3 linked regions of the Homo sapiens genome follow. The protein of the gene in region 2 interacts with the protein of the main gene of each other region in a pairwise test. Each region holds a gene or a part of one and is shown on either strand. Other genes may lie near its edges.

The links.
Region 1: the proteins of EXOSC7 (region 2) and ESRRG interact in binary tests that used the Homo sapiens proteins (3 or more experiments, as listed by UniProt).
Region 3: the proteins of EXOSC7 (region 2) and MTMR3 interact in a two-hybrid assay, tested with the Homo sapiens proteins (one study listed by IntAct).

Annotation. Positions count from the first base shown.
Region 1 is NC_000001.11:216,506,793-216,510,543, reverse strand, and holds part of ESRRG (estrogen-related receptor gamma), read left to right. Parts: intron 1-3,360; coding exon 3,361-3,605; 3' UTR 3,606-3,751. UniProt on the Homo sapiens protein: Orphan receptor that acts as a transcription activator in the absence of bound ligand. Binds specifically to an estrogen response element and activates reporter genes controlled by estrogen response elements.
Region 2 is NC_000003.12:44,979,130-44,982,880, forward strand, and holds part of EXOSC7 (exosome complex component RRP42), read left to right. Parts: intron 1-3,751. UniProt on the Homo sapiens protein: Non-catalytic component of the RNA exosome complex which has 3'->5' exoribonuclease activity and participates in a multitude of cellular RNA processing and degradation events.
Region 3 is NC_000022.11:29,880,778-29,884,528, forward strand, and holds the start of MTMR3 (phosphatidylinositol-3,5-bisphosphate 3-phosphatase MTMR3), read left to right. Parts: upstream 1-2,396; 5' UTR 2,397-2,582; intron 2,583-3,751. UniProt on the Homo sapiens protein: Lipid phosphatase that specifically dephosphorylates the D-3 position of phosphatidylinositol 3-phosphate and phosphatidylinositol 3,5-bisphosphate, generating phosphatidylinositol and phosphatidylinositol 5-phosphate.

The sequences.
Region 1 (3,751 bases), on a different chromosome or scaffold from region 2:
AAAATAAAATCTTCTTTTTCAGTGGCTCTGTCTTATTCAATTTGCAGCTGCAAGGATGATGATATTTAGCTATCTTCCCAAAGTAAATGATCTGAACTAGACACATTTTTTTAGGATCTCTTTCACAGAGTAAAATATTGGAAGTTTTGATAAAGTTCTATTTTATTATTAGGTGTTAGACTTAATATGTGGGCAATAATATGTGTTTCATATACACTCTGGTTATCTTTTGAAATATTTATTCTTTTAGAATAGTATTTGCTTGTCTTATTGTCTAATTCAGTAGTAGTTCTTAATCCTGGCTTGGCAGTAGAACTACCTAGATTTTCAGCAATGCTGATGTCCTAGTTCTGGTCTCTTACTTCATAGATCTAGACTTGGGCCCAGTATCCAAGATTTTTAAGAGCTCGCCCATTGTTTTTAATATGTAGCCTAGTCCTGTCTAGTTAGTTCATAAACTTATGATATCCATTAAGTTTAGCTGGTTCCTATTAGCACAAATACTAGGAATATTTCCTTTAAAGCATAGTTAAAAAGAAACCAGCATGAACAATGAAAACAAAATAAATTACATACATTAATGCCAGTTCTATTGAGCCTGGTGTCAACGTGTAAATTTAACCAAAAGAACAAAACAGAGATTAAAACCACAGATCCAGAACTTGAACTAGGATCCCTAATGGAGATTAATATTTTCTTCAGCAGTCTGCCAGCTGAATCATTGTCTAATTAAATAGTTCAAATTTAGTGAGTTTGCATTTAAAGTATTAGCAGATCCGAGAATGGGTAAAGCTAAAATGAGTTAGAATCTTTTCTATAAATGGGAAGTTAAATTATCATAGTAATTTGATTAAATCATTTTTAAATCTCTCATGCTAAATCACAGCCTTGAAAGAATAGTTTGAAATCTTAATTGCTGTTTGTGAGCATATCTCTCTGCTATTTGTTCTTGTCTCATTTCCCATGACATCCTATAATATATCTCCTGCTGGGCAAGAGTAGTGGGAAAGGCAAGACTATGGGTAGGGCCGAGGTAACTGTGCAGCTGACTTCAAGCACTTAAAGATATGCCATGTAGAAAAAGGAAATTTATCCTGTATTGTTCTAGTAATTAGAAACAGGACCAAATGATAGAATTTGGAGACAGATTTAGGAAAATTTAAAGAGGAAATTCATAATAATTAGTTTTGCCTCTTATCAAGGAGAATACTCTACATACTTTTCATACAACTGGCAATGTCTTCATTAAGAATGTTGTAAAGAAGACAGCTGATGAAGATAGGAGTTTGAATAGGATGTGTTTAGAGGACAATTCATCCCAATTTTTAAGGGAATGCAAATTTAGTGTTCTACATTCTAGCAGCATTATTGATTTGAAGAATCCTGAATTTAAACCTGTGTCTGACACATATTACCAGTGCCACGTGTCTTCTAGGGCTTGGGGAGGTAAAATGAGGCCATGTTCACCTGAAATAGGTGCTTAATAAATGGTAAATGTATTATTTTTATTCTGGTGTGTTTTTGGTCTAGTTGGAAAATAGTTATTTCGTTTGTTTTGTCACTGCAGAGTGTAATTCCCATTTTCTCCTTCCATCTATTACTCTGTTTTCATGTAGAGAGCTAATTATTAGACCCAGGATAAGTTGGGAAAATCCAACTCATCTCTGTTCCCTTATGCACAAGGTCCATATTGCAGTCTTTTGTGTATCTAGAGACTCACCATAGTGTTTCCCCATACCTCCCATTTTTCCTTCAGGTAGCATTTAAGTGCAAAAATAGAGAGAAAGAATATCAGATCATGTTGCCATCATCTCTATGAATGTTTTTCTGTCCCTAAGATTACCAACCCCTAGACAACTTTAGAAATTATGTGTGTTTGTTTCTAAGAGACAGCACCATAGGAGGTGGATGAGATTGCCATGCTGAGAGGAACCAGACTGGAGAGAAGCTGGGTAGAAACAATCCACAGGGAAAGGCCAGGCGTATGTTGGGGAGTGACTTGAGTCCCGCTCCAGGGAACCACTATCAATGCTATTTCCCACTTGGAAAAATTCCTTCTTTTTGCTCTGCCAGGCAGAAATTGAGTCTTGAGCAGTAAATACTTATAAGCAACTTTATTCCAGATTATTCAAAAATTTTTTAAAGAGGTGTCATTAAACTACCTAATGTAAATAGTGGTCAGTTCACCAGTGATATGGTGGAATGATTCAAAATGACAATGTAAGTGAAAAAAACACTAAACAAAATACAAATAAATTTTTAAGACATGCTACTGGTTATCTTTTAATTAGTTTGCCATATTTCATTTTTATTATATATTTAGCCACTTGATTTTAAATTACATTCCCTCTCTTTTTGTTCATGTGATCTATGTTTGAATTGTATGAAAGATTAGGCTAACTACATATATCTTAGAGCTCAGCATTCTCAGAGAACTAGAATTATTAAACATGAAGAATCCCCCAAAGACTCCATTATGTGTAATTAACAGATAAACTGTCATCAGAATCAATAAAACGTGCTAAATGATTCAAACTTGTATATAATTAAGTGTCTGCTTTAGAGCTGGAGCTGTAACTTTTATTTTTTCCCCACATCTCACATTTCTCACAAGAATAATTTGGCAACCTTGTTAACCCTTTCTTTGCTTGATTGAATTAGATTTTCAAATTATTCATTTAAGGGCAAAGTTCACCTTTACAAATGCGAAAAATATTTCAGAACTCAGTGATCTGAAGACACCATTTGTTTTTCATCAGGGAAGTAGACTCTGTAAGGATGCTTTAATCAACTGATACTAGAACATTAAACATCCTGAAAGGATAAATAATTTATTGTGATTTCTGTATAGTGCTAGATTCAATGTAGTCACATGGAGTTCTTAGAATCTTAGTCAACAATTTTTTCCCCTGTTTGGGAAATATTGGCTTTTCCAGGCAAGATCAGAATTTTAAACAACCTTCCCCCACACAGCACTAAGATAATACTTTCAATAGATGGCCTTCCGTGGTTGTTTATTGAGTGAATGAATATATACCTGGATGAGACAATGAATAAAATAGTCAAGACTGTAATCTGTTAAAAGAAAGCCTTCTCTTGCTCAGCCTGAGAAAGAAAAATACACATTTTAAATCATAGATCTTTTCTAATAATTCCCATTTTCTAAGCTAGTATTAGAAATTATGTAGGGAAATTTGGAAAGAAATAGAGATTGTAGAAATGCAAGACTCTGAACAAATCATAGGTTCAAGCTCAGAGAAGTTCAAAAATAATTAAATTAATAACTAATTTTATAACTCTAGTCTACATAGGTTTGCTATTATTATTATAATTACTCATATCTTTTGCTTCATTGCACAGACTCCATGCACATAGAAGATGTTGAAGCCGTTCAGAAGCTTCAGGATGTCTTACATGAAGCGCTGCAGGATTATGAAGCTGGCCAGCACATGGAAGACCCTCGTCGAGCTGGCAAGATGCTGATGACACTGCCACTCCTGAGGCAGACCTCTACCAAGGCCGTGCAGCATTTCTACAACATCAAACTAGAAGGCAAAGTCCCAATGCACAAACTTTTTTTGGAAATGTTGGAGGCCAAGGTCTGACTAAAAGCTCCCTGGGCCTTCCCATCCTTCATGTTGAAAAAGGGAAAATAAACCCAAGAGTGATGTCGAAGAAACTTAGAGTTTAGTTAACAACATCAAAAATCAACAGACTGCACTGATAATTTAGCAGCAAGACTATGAAGCAG
Region 2 (3,751 bases):
ATGCCATATGTATAGAGGAGCAAAACACAATTTACACCATCCAAATAAAGGTCAGGATGCAGGTGAATGAGCCTACCATGGAATCTCAACTGATTCAGTTCTGAAATCTCCTAAACTTTTGTTGCGTTGGTTATAGAGTGCCGGCAGTGCACCTTAAGCAGTGCCTGCCTGAACTCCTGTTGCTTGTATAGTCCTAGTCATTTTGTGTTTTACTTTTCACCTTTGGTCCAGTAACGTCCATTTCAGCTTCTGATGTCACTTTCCCTTCAGCCTTTGGTTCTTTTACTATTTCAGGGAATATTTCATCTTGTTTTGGTGATAGTTAGAAGCAGTTGAAATTAACCTCACGATGTGTTGAGGATTCAGTTGCTAGTAATGGTAACCAACACATCGGCTCAAGCAAAACAGTATGGATTACAAGGCTGCAAGTGTTTCTCCAGGAATCCTAATCTCTGCTGGTTTTTTTTTTCCCCCTCTTTGCTTTGTTTTTGTCTCCCTACAGATTGGTTTTCTATTTCTTGGGCCAGTGGTAGAAAAAATGTGGTTCCTTCCCAGTTCCTCTGTAAAAGAGACCATTCCTTCTCGTTCAGTTCTGAACTCATGTTTCCAAGAGAAAGAAACTCTAGTTCTTTTAGGGGGTTGAGGGAAAGGATGGACAGAATAATTAGGCTCAAACATGGCCACTAGAGGATGTGTCACACTTGGGAGAAGTCAGTTTGTGAGAAGGGAGGGTGGATCATTTTAGTTATTGGCAGAAAATGGAACCCTCTTCAGGTAGTTCAGGAGACTTTTATGATGGGACTCTAGAGCAGTATGGGGGGGGTTTCAGGGAACCAATAAGAGATGTTGAGGAGCCCCAAGACAACTACTGGGAGTGGCTACTGCCCCTATTCCAAAGGGGCCAGGGGAGGAAACAGTATTACCACATTTCAGTGATAGCTGGAACTGTGGAGGAAGGGCTGCCCAACATAAGTCATAGTCTTCGATAGATGCAGGCACTATCAGAAATGTGGCCACTAGATTGGGGGTGAGGGGCACCCTCTGATCTGGTATCTTCCACTGGACAAACCCAACCAGAAGCCAGCAAAGGGAGTCTAGGTGATACAATTTGAGTCAACCTGGTGAACAGATCCCCTCTCCCAGGGGAGAACAGAGAATCAAAAAGGTGGATTAAATCGGTATTTTGATAAATAATTTGATTGGTTTCTGTTAGGTTCTCTTTCAGTCTTTGAAGGCTATATCCCATTCTTATTAGGTACATATTATAATTTTTATTTCATTGAATATTTACAACAGTTCTGAAGGTAAATGTTATCTCTATAGATGAGGAACTGAGCTCGGGCAGGTTGAGTCGCTTGTCAAGGTGACACAGTAATTGAGTGGTGGCACTGGGATTTAAATCCAGACCTGTCTGATTGCAAAGCCCATACTTGACTCTGAGGCCACCTTCCTGCTGCAGTGAAAGTCATTTCTTCCATTTCCTCAGTAGGGATCCAGAGATCAAGGCAGGAGAGAATCTTTGCTTCCTCTACCTCCTTTTCTTTCCCCCTTTCTCTAAAAGCTTGTGGGGAAACTGGAAGGGAAAGAGAAAGTTCTAATTGACACCTCCCACTCCCCAGTTTTTCTAGAGCTTAAATAGTATATGGCATATACTGCTGTATTGTTTTGGTTGCATTTTTCCCACATTGAGTATAAGTTCCTTTAGAACCCTATATTGCATTTCTTTGTATAGCTTTTGTCTTACTAGTATCATAAACGATTTACTCTGCCCATACCATGCAGAACTTGGAGCAGACTTCAGAATTTTTAGAATCTAGGATTTATCCTCTTTTCTGGCTTACTGGGCTAGATGTGTGTTTTCCTCATCCATGAGAAGCCATTGCTAACCTCCCTCTTAGCCCAGGGATTCTGAAGCCTTGAAGTGCATTTTACTCACCTACAAAATACAGATTCTGAGGCTTTACCCCAACATTCTGAATCAGACTCTCTGGGGCTGGGGCCTGAGAATGGACATTATCATAAAGTGTTGGGAAATTTGGGGGCAGCCACCAGACATTGGCCCATGGGTAAGCCACTGACCAGAGATAAAGAAATCTCTGCTCTCTCCTGCTGAAGTCATATGGTTTCCTGCCTCTTTTTGAATGAGGCTTTGGAGTCAGACTGAGCAGGCACCTTCACCATTTACAATAAGTGGTTTTACTTGCATAACTGAACCTGCTTCCCTTGTGTAAAATGGGGACTTATGCACCTGGAAGTAGAATGGGGTTATGAGGAATGATGAGATAAGAGATGTCAAGCACTTGGGCTGTGGTTAACACAGAAAAAATGCTGGCTCCCTTTCAAGTTTGTTTTTCCATCAGAAGTGTGACTTTGTCTTAAACCATCCACACTAGATCCCCAGCCTTCATAGTGACCTCATTAAAGATTCAGCCTGTGGCTCCTGAGAATTAAACCTCTTTTGATTTGAAGGAATCGGGATTTTTCAATTATCTCAAGAAAAGGGATAGGCCAGGTGCAGTGGCTCACACCTGTAATCCCAGCCCTTTGGGAGGCTGAGGTGGGAGGATCACCAGAGGCCAGGAGTTGGCATCCAGTCTGGGCAACATAGCAACACCCTATCTCTAAAAAAAATTAGGTGTGTGGTGGTGTGTGCCTGTAGGCCTAGCTGCTTGGGAGGCTGAGGCCAGAGGATCGCTTGAGCCCAGGAGTTGGAGATTTCACTCCAGCCTGGGTGACAGAGAGATACTCTGTCTCTTAAAAGAAAGAAAAAGAAAAAAGAGAAGGGGGATCTGTGGCAAGAGCTGGAAAGTCCCCAGACAGCTCTGAGGTACCGCCTCTCATGGGCTCCGTGGATTATCTCATGGCCTGTGTGGCTGTCTGTCTTTATCTCTAGTGACATCTCTGCTTTTCTCTGCCAAGATTTATCCCTTCTCTGCAGCCACTTGCTGTCCAGCTTCCCTTCTTTGTAGAATCTGCCTCTGCCCAATACCTTTACTTTCGTGTGGCCTCTCTGGGCTCCTCCATATCATGACCTGTCAGCTCCTCTTTAACTCCTTTCTTCTCTCAAGTGTTTCTCAGATCAGAGACCAGATTGCAATGAGAGAATCAGTTTGGTCTGGTAGTATTTCACGCCAAAAAGAGTTGGTCACCCTTTGGATTATATGCCTTTGGTTCAGGCACCTACCCCTGGTCCTGGCTGTTGGGGATGGATGGTGACTGTTATGTGGCCTTTACAGGGCTTTAGGCACAATAAAGCTTTCCCAGGTTCAGCCTACTGAGTGCTATGGCTATGACCTGGACATTAAACTGGCCCTCATAGGTTCAGACCTGGCCATGGCAATTGACGAACCCTACCACAGGGCTCTTGGAACCCTGTGAAAGCCATTTTATTGTATGTTCTTGGCTGTTGAAGGGAGTTGTAGCCCAGCTGATGGCTTCCATTTCTTTTCTGTGGATCTTGCTTTCATCATAAGCATTGTTTAGGGGTATAGCATGGAAGAGGGAGATCAGGGCCTCAGCCTGGTTTTCAACTATGAGATTGAGCAGTCAGTATTCGGTTGCTCAGTCTGGCCATGACAGAATTGGAGCCAGCCCTCAGGACTCTTGATTTTTAGCTCTCTGCCCTTTCTGTTTACAGACCCATGGCACAGAAAGCCTTATGCCCAGACACTGCAGGATGCAGAGTTATGGAGCCATATCCTTTCAGAGGAATGCCTGGCTACTCAACAGGGTTGGAAAGTCAAACAAGGAT
Region 3 (3,751 bases), on a different chromosome or scaffold from region 2:
AAATAAAATAAAATAAAAAAACTTTAAATCATTCATCAATTTTAGTATTTACTGTTTCTTCTCCCATTCCATTAAGCCTATAGTCAGTCATAGAACAGAAAGGGAAAATCAGGGCAGCCACATATAAATACAGGTGCAAAGTTGAGGCAGGAGTGGACCCTCAAGGGCCAAGAAGAGGTCATTGCTGAGCTTCACATTTAGCCCTGGGCTTTCTGGAAGCCAGAGTGAAAAGAGAGACACAATCAGATGCGTAACAGTTATCAAAAAGCAGGAAGCACACCGGTTTTTCTGGTAGTAAAGCAAGGGCTTTCCAAGCTTTTAACTCTAAAGTAATTTATTTCGTTCTTTCTTTTTTCTCTCTCTGACACCCAGATTGGAGTGCAGTGGCACAATCAGGGCTCACTGCAACCTCTGCCTCCCAGGCTCAAGCCATTCTCCCACCTCAGCCTCTCAAATAGCTGGGACTACAGGCGTGCACCACCACGCCTGGCCAGTTTTTTGGTATTTTTTGTAGAGATGGGATTTCGCCATGTTGCCTAGGCTGGTCTCGAACTCCTGAGCTCAAGCAATCCACCTGCCTCGGCCTCCTAAAGTGCTGGGATTTCAGGCATGAGCCACTGCGCCCGGCCTAAAGTAATTTCTTACTTGAGATTTTATTTCAGGCTACTGTGTCCATGCACTGGGCAGTACAGCCTGGTGGGTAAGACAGCACAGTATTTTTTTTTTTTTTTTGTCTGCTGGGTTTGAATTTTGTTTTAATACACGCAATTTATTCTGTGCTTCACTTTCTTCATCTGTAATATGGAGATAATGGCATCTACCTATTAAAGTTGTGAAGATTCAATTAGATGAGTTGTATGAATAAATGTTAGCTGTTAGTTTAGTTTCGTTTTTTTGAGACGGAGTCTTGCTCTGTCGCCCAGGCTGGAGTGCGGTGGCGCAGTCTCAGCTCACTGCAACCTCCGCCTCCCGGGTTCAAGTTATTCTCCTGCCTCAGCCTCCCAAGTAGCTGGGATTACAGGCGCCCGCCACCATGCCCAGCTAACTTTTGTATTTTTAGTAGATCCGGGGTTTCACCAAGTTGGCCAGGCTGGTATCGAACACCTGAGTTCAGGTGATCCACTCACCTTGGCCTCCCAAAGTGCTGGGATTACAGGCGTGAGCCCCCGCGCCCAGCCAGCTGTTAGTTAATCAAGAAATTCGACTGCCTACTACTTAACCTGCACAGTTCTAGGTGCTGGGGAAACAGTGACGAACAAGACAAGATCCTTATCTTCAAGTAGCTTTTACATTTTAGTGGAGTAAAATGACAGTAAACATTGAAAATAAATTTCAGAAAGTGCTGTGGAAAAACTTTACAACAGACGCAGGAATAGATTTCATTTGACTAGTTCTCCCAGTTTCCAGAAAAGTCAAGGGTAGAATGTTAAAAGGCAACTCAGAGGAGGTGAATCTGTTAGGGCCTACGGTAATGCAATCCTGGTTTGTGGAATTCTGCAGGCTAGTGTGGGTAGGTTACAATTTTTTGGGGGAGTTGTTTTTTACTTTGTTTGAAAACTCACTTCTTCCCGCTGAGCTTTTGATTAGGAGCTGAAGTTGAATCAGTTTGAAATTGTATTCTGGACCGGATGCGGTGGTTCATGCCTGTAATCCCAGCGCTTTGGGAGGCCGAGGTGGGTGGATTGCTTCAGCCCAGGAGTTTGAGATCAGCCTGGACAAAATGGCAGAAACCTCATCTCTACAAAAAATACAAAATTTAGCCGGGCATGATGTTGTGAGTCTGTAGTCTCAGCTACTCAGGAGGCTGAGGTGTGAGGATCGCTTGAGCCCGGGAGGCAGAGGTTGCAGTGAGCCGAGATGCCACTGCACTCCAGCCTGGGCGACAGAGCCAGACTCTGTCTCAAAAAAAAAAAAAAAAAAAAAAAAAAGAAAAGAAAAGAAAAGAAATTGTATTCTGAATACAACTTCTAAAACACTATATTTACTTGCATTATATTAAACTGGTTTTATCCTGACCACAATTGCAGGTGGAAGATACCACTATTGTTCTATTTTTCTGGTAAGTAGAGTGAGCCATGTCTTGCCCAGGGTTACAGAGCTTGGAAAAGACGCCTCCTAAAAATCTGTAGGACCACCTTTGGTTTTCTTCCAGATTTTTTTTTGTCATCTCTTTTCCTCCACCCATTTCCCATCTGTCTAGCCATTCTTGCTCCGCTGGGCTTTTTCGCGAGCCTCTCCCCAGCTGCAGCCCCGCCCATCTCCTGGGGCGTGACCACCTGTCCAGGCCCCGCCCCCGTCCAACCGGCGGAGACCCGCCCCCTTTCCCGGACACCGGGCTCAGCGCCCGAGCGTGCGCGCGCGTCCTCGCTCGTCGCCCGGCTCGGCGTCGGGAGCGCGCTCTGTGTGGCCGCTGCCGCCATGTTGTTGTGGTTGTGAGAAGGCGGCGGCGGCGGCGGAGTAGCAGCCGGACGAGACGTCCCAGCGGCTCAGGCGCTGCCCAGCGCCGGCCCTGGCAGGGAGCCTGGTGGGGTGGCGGAGGGGGAGACTGTGCCGTGGAGGGCCTCGCCATGTCCTGCTGCCCGGTAAGAACCCCATCCCCGTCCTCCGTCTCCTCGGCGGGTGAGGAAGAGCTGGAGGAGGGGCCGGCCTCGGCCCCGGCCCTGGCCAGGCGGCTGTCACCCTCTGAGGAGGCAGCGCCCTGGGAGGGCTGGGGACTGCGTGCGGGGCCCGGGGAGGGGCGTCCCCGGCGGCTGTCGCCGCCAGGGGGAGGCGCTGGGTGTGGGAGTGGGAATGGGAGCTCGGCGGCCGAGCTCGGCCCGGACCCTAGATGCGGGGGAGGCGGGGTCCCGGGCTCGGGCTGCCTTCCCAGACCTGGCGGGGATGGGCCCGTGCGGCTCTGGGTGTGGGACGTACCCTCGGAGCGCCCGGAGTTATTCCCACGAACTCCCGGGAGGTGGGTGTGCGCCCTTCGCCCCCTGCCGGGTCTGTGGCGGTCCATCGTTGCCGGATACTGGAGGTCAGGGGCCATGGGAGCCCCGGGGCGAACGGTGCGGGCCTGGGCCTTGTGGAAAGGAGGAGTGACCGCCCGATCGTGCAGCAGGGCATCCCCCTGACCTGGTAGTACTTAGGTGGGTAGGATGATTGGGGGCGGTTGGCGTAACTGAGGGAACCCTGGTCAGACTGCTCCGCAAATGATTACAGTGTTATTTCTCCGGTAGTAATTTTGCTTGATGTATGGCATTTCCGGACCCATAAGATGATACTGTAGGTTGTATTTTGGACTGGAAAACTTATGTCAAAATTATGGGGTAGATTTTTTGGCCACATTAATAGACTCCCCTGGAATTTGATAATCTCACTTGTGAGTTTTGGACATGGACTGCTATTACATATTGATGTTCAAATGTCCTTTCCAGACCCAGGCCTAAATTCTTACTGTTGTAGTATCTTGATTCTGACATCTATTTTTCCACAACCCAAACAAACAAAACAAAACAAAACAAAACCCCAAAACCATATACTTTTCTAGTTAAGGTTCAACTTTCTCATATGTGAATGGTAATGCCATAAGAGGCCTGGGTTGAATTACAGGAGATTATTATTATTTTTTTCAATGTGAAATGTTTGTGATTTGTCCATGGAGAGGTGGTGGGGACCTTCCCCTTTCAGATTCAGGGCTGTTCAGTAGGACAGGAGACATTGATGGCATGCAGAAAGTCTTCCCTTTATAGGGCCTATGACTTGGGTAGGC